Homo sapiens: one gene and its partner. The protein of the gene in region 1 purifies or fractionates together with the protein of each later gene. This does not show direct contact. Each region holds a gene or a part of one and is shown on either strand. Other genes may lie near its edges.

Region 1 (6,004 bases):
TTTAGTTTATCGGAAGGCAGGAGATGAGCCTGTAGAACTCGTTTCCTGAGGGCAGTCTGAAAACAGAATCTGGCTCCAGGAGTAGAGAGGGCTGTGATTTCAGACGGGTGCCCAAGCACTTGACTCCAGGGACAGCGCCACCCTCTGCGGCAGTGCCAAGCACTTCCCTCAAGTTTGGGATCTATAGAGGAGCTTTTGTGTGGAAACGTGGGCAGACTTAGGTTGAAATAATGGAGGTGGGGAGCAGGAAAGGGAGTTGTTAGATCTTGTTTATTATGGTCCTTCACTAATTTTTCCTGCATGGTAGTGTAGCCCCCTGACCTCTACCTCCTGCCTCCTCCCAAGCAGAATACATGTTTAAGTCAAAGTCTACAGATGCCAGTGTTGCACATAGGGACTCCACAGCAAGTACCTGTTAAATGATGATAACAGTCATATGCAGTGGGATGAAAATAACATGATCCACACCCCCAGACTCCCCTCCGATTGTCCCCTCACCTCCACTCTTAGGCTCCATTGTTACCACTGGACATTACAACGGGCTTTTTCTGAATGTGAAGGTTTCCAGGAGTCGGTCTCTGATCTGCTTGGTGCGGGCCCCATAGATGAGGGGGTTGAGGGCAGGTGGCAGCAGCAAGTAGATGTTGGAGAGAAGGATGTGCACAGGCTTTGGGACAGTGTGATGACCAAAGCGGTGTGTGAGGTAGGAGAAGAGACCAGGTATGTAGAAGGCCAGAATGACACAGATGTGAGAACTACATGTACCAAAGGCCTTGGCATGGGCCTCCCGGGTAGGTAGCTGCAGCACAGCATGGGCAATGAGTCCATAGGAGCCAGTGATACCCAGAATATCCATACCTGAGATGGCCAGTGAAAGTGCCAGACCATATAAGTTGGTGGCCTGTGTGTTACCCACCACCAGTTCTACCACTGCCATGTGTGCACAATAGGTATGGCCTATGGTCTTGGCTTGGAAGTGCTCAAACTTTGCCACCAGCAGTGGGAAAGGTACAACAATAGCCACAGCTTTCAGTGCCAGGGCCAAGGCTGCATAACCCACACAGGCTTTGGTGACCAGGACAGGGTAGTGCAGTGGACGCCCTATTGCCGCAGCACGATCACAGGCCATGGCCAAAAGCACACCTGATTCCATGGCAGTCAGTGCATGTACAAAGAACATCTGGACCAGGCACACAGCATATGGCACAGATCGGGGCCCAAGCCACAGCACAGCCAGCAACCCTGGGGCTATAGATGTGGCTAAGCCCAGGTCTGTGGCTGCCAGGATGGCCAACAGTAGAAACATGGGCTGGTGCAGTGTGGAGTCTATCCACACCACTGCCGGCAGTGCTCCATTGCCCAGCAGGGCCAGCAGATAAATGGGCCCAAAGACCAGTGTCAGCCAAGTCTGGGCACTTCCTAGCCCTGGAAAGCCAGTCAGTATGAAGAAGTTTGGGTGTAGGAAGGTGGAATTGAGTTGTAGAGTTTCTGCCATTCTGTGGTGGGCACAACTTGAGGGCTCATGGGGGCATGACTCCTGACAGGGAAGATAAGGGGAGAGATTTTGGGGGTCTCACAGTGGCACAAACCCATCCATGGCATACGTGTAGGAGTAGTGCAGGGCTGGGAGGATCACAGGTTTATAACTTTTGGTTAGGGGGGTTTGGATGGATAATTAAGGTCGCAATTCTAGCTAAGATAGGAGAATCCTTTGCTCCTAAAAGTCTATATGTATTGTAGTGGGAGGAAGGGGTAGTGAGGAAGAGGCTGCCTGCTGCAGTGGTTGGTATAGATAGCCTGAGAGAGCCTTCTAATTGGATGTCAGCAGAGGGTGGAGTGGAGATGAATACTTTTCTTCCTCAGGGTCCAAATAGAGTCAGTCTCAGTCTCTATATGAGGAGAAAGCCAGTGCTGGGGGCAGGGTGGGGAATCAGGCTTCCGGCTGTCCTGTCCCTGCCTGTGTATCCTTGGGCAAGATCTCTGGACCTCAGCTTCTTCAGCTGTATAGGCCTGGTGGGTACAGTGATATTAAGGTTTGCCCAGCTCTGAGCAATTGCCCATTCTCAGCACCAACCATCCAGGAAGAGAGGAGGCAGAGTATAAAGAAAGGGAGAAACCGTAGTGGGAGGCAGATGGAATCTGGAGTGAATCTGGGAGCTTGGTGTGGCAAGGGAAAACTTGCTGGGTTTTTGGGGTGCAGGGTGCTTACGTTCTGAACTTGATGCTGAACACCAGCTGGAGAGTTGAAGTTGGGGCTGGGAAGCAACAGAGAGAGAGATGGCAGTACGAAACGGGACTTTTCTTCTCCGTTTCCTTTCCTTCTTCACGGTACAAAAGTGGGTCCCACTAGAGTCTCATTCCTGGCATGCCAGAGCGAGTGGAGGTGACATAGAGGGAGAAAATGGCACTCAACTCAGAGTAGCAGCCATCTGAGGAAGAAGCATCTCTGACATTGGAGGAGGCAGGACAAGTAGATTGACTTAGGTGGGATCCAGCCCACCTAAGAAGCTTAATACATGTTGAATGGATAAATGAATGAGGAAGAAATCACCAGCAGAAGGCTTGACTGGGAAAGATCTCGAGCACTGTGTGTTGGCAGCTTCTCTTCGCTTTAATCAGTGCCTGTGGGGCTCTTTATGTGGCTGTTCTACCTGCTTCCCTCAGGGCCTTTCTCCCTCCCACCTGTGCCACATTAACTCTGTTTTGTATCTCTTTGCTCAGTGCTGATGGGCTGGTGACTCAGGAAGTAGAGTAAGGAGGCAGAGATGGGGGCAAGCCAGGAAAGAGACTATCAGGTGGAAAGATCTGGGCAAGGAACACTTTCTCAGGGAGGTCTTTGCTGGCTCACTGAAGTCCGGGAGAAAATTCCTTGGTTTATTCTTTAATAGCATCTAGCCCACTCTGTTGTAATTTCTTGTCTCTCAATTCCCCACGAGACAAAAAGAGTTGCAGATATTGCTTTTTATTAGCTACAGTGTCTCTACTGCTTACCACAATGTCTGGCATGTAGTTAGCTATGAATAAATATATATTGCTTTTAAGTGTGGGACAGACTGCTAGTCCAAACAGCTTTTGCTGACTAATAGGGGCTCCTACAGTTTCAGGAGCTTTAGATATCCATGAAGAAAAAGAATTATTCACCATCAACCACAAGTCTACTGAATACAGTTCTTTCTATTATAAGGAGACTTAAACTCACCACACTATGTAAAGTCATACAATAAAGACCACAGGGCCTATTGGAAAAATGAAGTTAGGGGCACAACACTCAAAAACTTCATCAGTGACACATTTGAAAAAAAGATGGGCTGGGCACAGTGTCTCACACCTGTAATCCCAGCACTTTGGGAGGCCAAGACAGGAAGATCACTTGAGCCCAGGAGTTGGAGACCAGTCCGTGCAACACAGTGAGAGCCCATCTCTACAAAAAAATTAAAAAAATTAGCCAGCCACAGTGGTGTGCACTGGTACTTCTACCTACTCGAGAGGCCGAGGCAGGAGGATCACTTGATCCCAGGAGTTCAAGGCTACAGTGAGCTATAATCATGCCATGCACTCCAGCCTGGGTGATAGAGTAAGACCCTGTCTCTAAAAAATAAATCCAATAAAATGAAATTGGGCAGAAAGTTGTAATACCAGATGTGAATGGGTGTGGCTCATAACGCAAGTGGTGAACTGAAGTAGCTGATCGATGTTTGAGGTGTGTGCATGTGTGCATGTTGAGCTTTCTTACTCAGCTCAGTTCAGCTGGGTTCAGTTTTCTGGGTTCACCTACTTTCTTGGAAGTGGAGTTACATGCAAGCAAACACGAAATTCACATTATTCTCAGTCCCCTAATACATATGTCAATTGTCTTTGAATAATTTGTATTTTAAAACTAGCATTATAGCAGAACTAGTTGAATCTCTTTTCTGCCTGGCCTTGTGTCATGTGGTGAGAATACAGTGGCAATAACAAGACCCTGCTGCTCTCAAGGAGTTCACAGTCTAATGGACACAGTGATCTAAACAGTTGTCGAAGGGTTGTTAAAGTAATTGCCTTAACTCAAGTCAATACCAGATACGATGGCAGCACAGAGAAAGAAGACTTTCACTCTTGCTGGGGGAGTCAGGGAAATGTCTGAATCATAGTAGTGGTTAAAAGTCTTGTGGGGTTTCCTGTGTACGTGCACTGCTCTAAGCCTTGACCTCACAACAGTCATTTGAGGTGGGCACAATTCTTTCTTCCATTTTACAAAAGAAACTAAGAGACAGACGTTAACTTGGGGAAGGTCATATAGCTAGTAAATAGCAGAGTTAGGATACTAACTCTGTCTGGCTCTAGCATACTTGCTGTTAGCCACTACCTCAAAAATTGTAGCTGAGGTTTAGAACATGAGTTTTTAGAATAGGTGGAGCAAAATGCACCCATTCCTGGGAGAAGGAGTTCAGGAGATTTTGGGATTGGCAGGTGATCCTAGGATTGCTGAATGGAGAGATGTACAAAGAGCTGTAATTATGTGGCAGTAAATGGTGAGCTGTCATCAGTTCAGGGAGGAGAGGAGTACTGAGCAGGTGGGAGCAGTCGGTTAAGAGCCATGAAGGAGAGGGTTAGGAAAAAGTGCTCTTGTCTTCAAGAGAACACTAATGGAACTTTTGACTGCCTTGGACACTTGCTCTTTGTGCAAAGATTGTTTGTAAGGTAAATTACAGAATCCATAAGCCCAAAAAGTCCAAATTTGAAGTCATTGGGTTCTTGGAAATCTACTGTGTTATGCATTTCCCATTCTCCAGTAATCCAAGATACACTGGGAGATATCATAGACTTCGTCTTTAGAAGGTTCCTTGGTTAGTCTCCCAAGCTCCAGTTCATACTTATAGAAGCTATCTAAGCACATCTTGGGAACCAACTGGCTGGTCTTTTCCTGTGACGTTGACCATTAGAGGAGGGGATCTGACACCTGTGATCTGGGGGCTATATACCAGAGCCTGCTCCCCAGAGCAGGGTGTCAGCTCTCTGTGAGGAGTTGGGTGGGGTAGGGAGAGGGGAGGCTTGTTGGATTTCTTAGTTGCTGTTAGACTGACAAGAAAAATAGGATAGGAGGGTTCTGTCTGGAGACTGACTCTGATTTTCTCACATTTTTGGCTAGTGCAGCTACCACCAACATCTATAGAATAGGGTTCTTAGATAACAGCTGGCTCCATGTGGGCCTGTTCTATTGTTTTCCGCTTAAAATGATCCATGAGCAAGAACACATATGAGTAGCTTATTACTTTACATGATAGATTACAGATCAGAAATCTTGGGTCCTCGCGGTGTTGTACAGCACTAAATCCTCTTCTGGAAACCTACTAAAGCAAACTCAATTGTCAAATCCCAATTCCTGGGTCAGTATGAGATCCTTTTGTGACTAATGGTAGCATAGTAGCCCAGGCCTCCTTCACTCAGTTTCAGGAGAGGTAGAGAGACCCTGTAAGATCAGGTTTGCCCTACCCTATGGAGATGTGGAAGGAGTCGTGGAACCACTATGCCCATTCTTCTAGTATTAGTTTTACTCCTCTACTTCATGCTTCCCAGCCCTTCCATGAGCAGGTCCTTAGTATTCCATAAAGCTCTGGAGCACTGGGCATCCCCAGTTCCTAGGAGGATAGTAGATGTGCTTGCATTGAGGTTGTAGATTTGAGAAGGGAATTGTTCTCCCTCTCCATCACAGTAGGATCTTCCAGAAGTCAGATTATGGTAGGGGTATGGAATAGATCACATCTAGTTTTTAATTAAACCTCTTTCGATCTTGTCTACTCTCCTTATCCATGTCTCCTTCCTCTGCAATAGGGTCATTCCTTCCAATCCCAGAATCTCTGGGACTGACACTAACTTTGACCATATATAGAAGTGACTCTATGCATGCGGAGGTCACAGTTGCCATCTTTGTTTCCGGGGCAACGCTATACCTGTAAAATTGGGTTAGGACCCTGATACTCTCTTAACTTAGCAAATCATTCTATTCCTTCAAGAGATGTTTTTG
Region 2 (7,041 bases), on another chromosome or scaffold:
CAGAGTGGGAGGCACTGGCAGCCAGGCCTTACATCCGGAGCGGGGAGCGTCCTGGGGGCCAGGCGATGGCATGGGGAGCAGCATGAGCAGGCTCAGTCCCCATTCCTGCCACCCCCTGCCCCCCCGTCCTCCTCCTGCTCAGGTCCCCGTCCCTGCCACCTCCTCACATCCTCCTCCTGCTCAGGTCCCCGTCCCTGCCACGTCCCCCCATCCTCCTCCTGCTCAGGTCCCCGTCCCTGCCACGTCCCCACATCCTCCTCCTGCTCAGGTCCCCGTCCCTGCCACCTCCCCCCATCCTCCTCCTGCTCAGGTCCCCGTCCCTGCCACCTCCCCACATCCTCCTCCTGCTCAGGTCCTCGTCCCTGCCACCTCCTCACATCCTCCTCCTGCTCAGGTCCCCGTCCCTGCCACGTCCCCACATCCTCCTCCTGCTCAGGTCCTCGTCCCTGCCACCTCCCCCCATCCTCCTCCTGCTCAGGTCCCCGTCCCTGCCACGTCCCCACATCCTCCTCCTGCTCAGGTCCCCGTCCCTGCCACGTCCCCACATCCTCCTCCTGCTCAGGTCCCCGTCCCTGCCACGTCCCCCCATCCTCCTCCTGCTCAGGTCCCCGTCCCTGCCACCTCCCCACATCCTCCTCCTGCTCAGGTCCCCGTCCCTGCCACCTCCCCACATCCTCCTCCTGCTCAGGTCCCCGTCCCTGCCACCTCCCCACATCCTCCTCCTGCTCAGGTCCCCGTCCCTGCCACGTCCCCTCATCCTCCTCCTGCTCAGGTCCCCGTCCCTGCCACCTCCCCACATCCTCCTCCTGCTCAGGTCCCCGTCCCTGCCACCTCCCCACATCCTCCTCCTGCTCAGGTCCCCGTCCCTGCCACCTCCCCACATCCTCCTCCTGCTCAGGTCCCCGTCCCTGCCACCTCCCCACATCCTCCTCCTGCTCAGGTCCCCGTCCCTGCCACGTCCCCTCATCCTCCTCCTGCTCAGGTCCCCGTCCCTGCCACCTCCTCACATCCTCCTCCTGCTCAGGTCCCCGTCCCTGCCACCTCCCCACATCCTCCTCCTGCTCAGGTCCCCGTCCCTGCCACCTCCCCACATCCTCCTCCTGCTCAGGTCCCCGTCCCTGCCACGTCCCCCCATCCTCCTCCTGCTCAGGTCCCCGTCCCTGCTCCACTCTGTCCTCCTCCTGCTCTGGTCCCTGTTCCTGTCACCCCACCCTCCTCCTGCTCAGGTGCTCAGGTCCCCGTCCCTGCTGCCACCCCCCACTCCATCCTCCTCCTGCTCAGGTCCCCATTCCTGTCACCACCCCCACCCTCCTCCTGCTCAGGTCCCCGTTCCTGTCACCACCACCCCAACCCCCATCCTCCTCCTGCAGGCGGCTCCCCGTGCATCTCCCAGCCCTGCCTCCACAACGGCTCTTGCCAGGACAGCATCTGGGGCTACACCTGCACCTGCTCCCCCGGCTATGAGGGCAGCAACTGCGAGCTGGGTGAGGCCCCGGCCGTCCCCTTCCCCCAAGGGCCTCCCTGGGCAGGTGGGCCTCACATCCTCGGCCAGAGTCCCAATGGGCCCCTCCTGAGGTGTAGCCATGAAGGTGCCTGTGTGAACCGCGATTTGGCTCACCCCAGGGGATTCCTCTCATCCCAACCAGATTCTCCTCCAGAAACCACGCCGGGGGCTGGCTGCATTCTGAGCTGCCCCTTCCAGACAGGCCCCCATACTTTTCATAGCAGGGGCCCCTCTCCTCCCCCCACCACCTCAACCATTCACAATCTGCTCACAGGCTGGGGGGGTCACACACAGGCGTCCTCAGTGCCAGACTCCCAGTGGGAGACTGCAGACAGGGAAGACGCAAAGCACGTAAACAAATATCCTTAAATACCCGCCAAATGTCAGTGTCCATCATCGCCAACTACAGCAACAAGCGTGCTCCGCTCTCAGCACCACTGGTCAACTTGGAGCCCGTTTCTCTGGGGAAAACCTTCCTCCCAGCCGAGCCCTCTCCTCCGAAGTCCAGATTTCTGCTCCATCTGCCTCCTTGATGCCCCAGCTAATGCCTTCACAGACACCCCAAATTTACCACGTACCAAAGGGGGCTTTGACCTTCACCCACCATGTGCCCCTTTCTTAATCTTCTCCCTCTTGGTGGAAAGCCCCCATCCCAGCTGCTCAGCCACCACCGATGTCACACTAACCCCCTCCCATCCCACGTCCCCTCCTTGAAGAAGCAGCAATTTAAAGGGAATAGCCAATGCAAGCCGGCAGACAAAACAGGCGCGTGGATTAGTCCATGTGGAAAAAGGACAAATAGAAGTGTCATCACTCATGGAGTCTTTTTTTTTTTTTAATTTTTATTTTATTTTTGAGATGGAGTCTCGCTCTGTCGCCAGGCTGGAGTGCAGTGACGCGATGTCAGCTCACTGCAACCTTTTGCCTCCTGGGTTCAAGTGATTCTCCTGCCTCAGCCTCCCGAGTAACTGGGACTACAGGCACGCGCCACCACGCCTGGCTAATTTTTGTATTTTTAGTAGAGATGGGGTTTCACCATGTTGGCCAGGCTGGTCTTGATCTCCTGACCTCGTGATCCGCCCACCTCGGCCTCCCAAAGTGCTGGGATTACAGGCATGAGCCACCGCGCCCGGCCTCACTCACGGAGTCTTTGTTCTACATGCACATTCCTGAAATACGGACATGTGGGAAACACTGACACAGAGGACAACGATCTGAAGAGAATGAGAACACATGGACCAACACACCAGAACTCTTGTGTGCAAGGCTGTGATAAAATGAACATGGACCAACACACAGAACTGTGTGCAAGGCTGTGATAAAATGACTATTTCCAAGCTAGCATTTCCTTTTTTTTTTTTCCTTTTCAGCTAAAAATGAATGTCACCCAGAGCGGACTGATGGGTGTCAACACTTCTGCCTCCCAGGACAGGAATCCTACACATGCAGCTGTGCTCAGGGCTACAGGCTTGGTGAGGACCACAAACAGTGTGTGCCCCACGGTGAGTGCTCAGACCACAGCGGCCTCCAGCTTCCAATGCCAGCGACCCCGTCCACATCCTCCTTCCTTCTGTAGTACTGGGTGAAGCCCGCGGATTTGTGATAAGCAGTTGCCACGACTCAGAAGGTGGTCCGCGTCTCCACGCTGGAGCAATGGCCATGCTAGAAAGTGCAGTTTCTGTCACTAGTGCTTGCTCGGACCACTCTGAGCTAAACCATGAGTGCTGTGAGGGGTGGTTTAACTCCAGTCTGTGTGTCTGTGAATTACTGCACATTCATCAGCATTAAGGATAAGATTATAATGGTTAGTACCATAGACGGAATTATGCAACGGTTAACACCATAGACAGAGTCCGATATTCGCTGAGAAGGCGCTGATTTTTATTCTCATGTTGCTGCCGCAAATGCAGACCAGTGTGCCTGCGGGGTGCTGACCTCTGAGAAGCGTGCACCGGATCTACAGGACCTCCCGTGGCAGGTAACAGAGCGCTCTCCGCGTGCTTCAATTTATTGTTATGACTTTCACCTCACTTGTCATTTCCTAAATAGAAATGTTGACAACTAAGTGAATCAGGCATCCTGACTTTGATGGGCTACTGACTGCACTGACCAACCTCTATTCACACTTCCAACCATGTTCTAATGCCGAGTTCATAACTAATACAAAAGGACAGCATTATTTACAGCCCCCAAGACCTTTCCTCTGCAGTTCCAAACTGTTACCAATGTCATTTTCTCAGAACATAAGCATCTCAAAATCTCTGCTCTCGGCTGCTGGCCTGGCATTCTAGCTTTGTTACTTTGTTCACTAAATTTCTCTAGTTTGGCATTCATTTTTGTTCTCCTTTTCCCCTCCTTGGCTGGTTTAGAAGTTAACCATTCATTTGTTTTTGGTTTGTTTTTTTTGAGATGGAGTCTCAATCTGTCACCCAGCCTGGAGTGCAGTGGTCCAGTCCCGGCTCACTGCAACCTCTGCCTCCTGGGCACAAGCGCTTTCCCTGCCTCCACCTCCTGAGTAGCTGGGATTACAGGAATGTGCCACCACGCCCGGCTGATTTTTATATTTTTAGTAGAGACGGGGTTTCACCATGTTGGACAGGATGGTCTCGAATGCCTGACCTCAAGTGACCCACCTGCCTTGGCCTCCCAAAGTGCTGGGATTACAGGCGTGAGCCACCACGCCTGGCCTCATCATTCACTTTCTGTTTACTTAATGGTCACTCTTGACACATAAACATCCATATTTAGCACAAGTAGTCAGCTATTTCTCCCTCCTCAGGCTAATTCCCAGCACCTCATTCTGGGTCCATTTGCTGTCTGGCCAGTATTTTATTCTTTTCTTGCTTTCTGTATATCTTCACAAAATAGATATTACGATTTTTGTTATTATGGTTTTATACCACCCACACTGGCTTTGATTTACTTACCTCATTTTCCACTTTCCTTGCCTTTCAGGCCTCTAACACAATTATCTCCTGCCTGAGTATATCCTTCAGAACAGCCTTGTCCAATAGAAATGCAGTGTAAACCACATAATTTAAAATTTTCTAGTAGCCACAATAATGTAAGTAAAAGCATGTGAAATTTGGATATTTAACCCAATATGTGTCATTATTTCCCCATGTAATGAATATAAACATTATTGAGGTTATTTGCCTTTTTCCTTTACACTGAATCTTTGGAATCTGGTGTGAATTTACACTGAGGTGCAGCCCTCGTGTCCACAATGCTCCGTACCCGAGTGTGGCTGCCGTGTGGATGGCACAGCCTCAGGGGCCCCCCTTGTGAGTAATAAGCCCCTGAGGTTTCTGTGTGTGACACCCGTCAGTTTCACCCGACTCTTACAAGACAGCTGTGCCCAGCCCACTCATTCTGGCAGTTGTGTGGACTGGCAGAGAACAGGATGGAGCTCAAGGACTTGAAGCCACCCAGCTCCAAGGTGGAGAGGAAGAAACCGAAGGGAGGCAAAGCAGACGGAGTGATGGAAGGCGGGGATGGAAGCGGGAATGGTCTATCACCAGCTTTGCAAACTTCCTCTCAATCTTTTATCACTTTTCCTGCCCAAGCTTTCTAAGACAGTTCTTCCTATCGCTGTCTGCCCCATGAGTGCGCTGAGGGTCGGTACTTGGGAGGCCCAGAGTGCAGTGGTCCTCCATAGGTAGTGACAGGGTCTGGCTCTACCACCTGCAGGCTGTCTCCAGCTTCCCAGCTTACCCAAGGGAAGAGAGGGTGCGGTTCTAGTCTGCAACCGTAGCACTCATACCAGCAAGGCTAAGAGCCATATAACCAGGGAGGAGGCATTCTCTAAACACAGCTGGTGTGTTTAAGACAGAGGACACTGACTTAGGCAGGCTACATACTATTAGATTTTTTACTTCAGTATTATAAATTGTTCTGAAGTTATTTAACTGAATATATGGAATTTTCCTAAAACAAACTTTGAAAAGGAGAATAATTAAGTGACCTAGCAGGACATAGGGTTGAAGATTATCTTTAGAACTTCCTTGTTTCTTACATCCTAGGGAAGAAGTATCACTAAAAGTCTGGCAGACTGATGGCGCAAGTGCCGTCTTCTCTCGAACTTGGTTTTATCCCCTTTAAAGTGAGGATCTCACCCCTAGAGGTGCAGTGAGGATTACAGATAACGTTCTTGACTTATGGTAGGTATTCAACAAGTGGCAGCTATTATTCATAAACACATGAAGAGTTCCAGGAACGACGCCACGGTAAAGTTGGAAAAACACTTTCTCACTTGGCTCAGCATTTTGCATTAGACGGTTGAAAACTGCAACACTTAACACTTCCAGAGCCAGTACCCGTGCTATGTGGGCACATGCTTTATTTCATTTAATCTTTCAAACAACTTCTCGTTTTCTCCTTTTGTATCCCTGGTAATATTATTTGCTCTAAAATCCCCTTTGTCTGATATTGATATAGACACTTTACTTTCTAATTATTAGTGTTAGCATGACTTATCTTTTTCCAATCTTCTACTTTTAGCCTATTTGTATTTTTATAAAGTGCATGTTTAAAAAATAAATAAGGTACATGTTTTATAGGTAGTATATAATTGGCTTTCATTTTTATCCAGTGTGAAAAACCTCTGCCTTTTAATTGGGGTATTTAGGCCATTTTACATTTATTGTAATTGTCGATATGTTTACGGTTAAAGCTATCATCTTGCTATCTTTTATTTTTCTTATCTGTTCTTTTCCCCTTTTTCTGCCTTCTGTTAGATTAACTATATATTGTTATGATTCTGTTTTCTCTCCTTTGTTGGTTTATCATCTCTGGTTCTTTGTTGGCGGTTGCTTCACAGTTTGGAGAATGCATCTTTACCCTATCACAGTCCACTCCACTTTCGCCGACGCCACATCCGCTCGCTGTAGCATGAGTCCTTACAGCAATCATGCCCCATTCCTCCCCTCCTGACCTGGGTGCTGGTTTTGGCATAGGTCTTACATCTACAGATGTTATAAATGCCACTCTATACTTCCATTATTTTTGTTTAAACAGTATCCTGTAAAGAAGTTTAAAGAATAAGGAAAAAAACCTTACATATATAGTGGAATGCGGATAAATATTTAATGGGATGTCATAACCTTTTCCAGTGTTCCTTGCTGCTTTGTGTAAATCCAGGCCTCCCTCTGGTATCGTTTTCCTCCTGCCTAAAGGGCCCCTTTGATATCTGCTGTGCTGTGAGGCGTCTGGGGAAGAAGCCTTCTTGCGTTTGTCTGGAGGAGTCTTTGTTCATCTTCATCTATGAAAGGCATTGCGTCTGGCGCAGAGCCCCAGGCTGGCAGCAGTCCTCTCCTCTCTGCACTTGGGCCTGCCCCACTGCCTTCCTGTCTGCCTTGTGCCACAAGACGGCTCCCATCACCCTGCTGCTGTTCCTCACATGTCCTTACCTGTGGCACTTTTAAGATTTTAAATGCTTTTTAATTTTAACTTTCTAAGATTTCCTCTATCATGGATTTTGAATTTAATTATACTGTGTATTGTTTTCATGTTTCTTGCACATAGGGTTTGTTGAGATT

What was found.
Region 2: the proteins of OR52W1 (region 1) and PROZ purify together in Homo sapiens (affinity purification with mass spectrometry; 2 studies listed by BioGRID and IntAct, with this or other methods). This does not show direct contact.

Annotation. Positions count from the first base shown.
Region 1 is NC_000011.10:6,194,715-6,200,718, reverse strand, and holds OR52W1 (olfactory receptor 52W1), read right to left. Parts: upstream 1,496-6,004; coding exon 533-1,495; downstream 1-532. UniProt on the Homo sapiens protein: Odorant receptor.
Region 2 is NC_000013.11:113,161,639-113,168,679, forward strand, and holds part of PROZ (vitamin K-dependent protein Z isoform 2 precursor), read left to right. Parts: intron 1-1,370; coding exon 1,371-1,484; intron 1,485-2,874; coding exon 2,875-3,006; intron 3,007-3,363; exon of another isoform or gene 3,364-3,414; coding exon 3,415-3,482; exon of another isoform or gene 3,483-3,545; intron 3,546-4,459; coding exon of another isoform or gene 4,460-4,531; exon of another isoform or gene 4,532-4,601; intron 4,602-7,041. UniProt on the Homo sapiens protein: Appears to assist hemostasis by binding thrombin and promoting its association with phospholipid vesicles. Inhibits activity of the coagulation protease factor Xa in the presence of SERPINA10, calcium and phospholipids.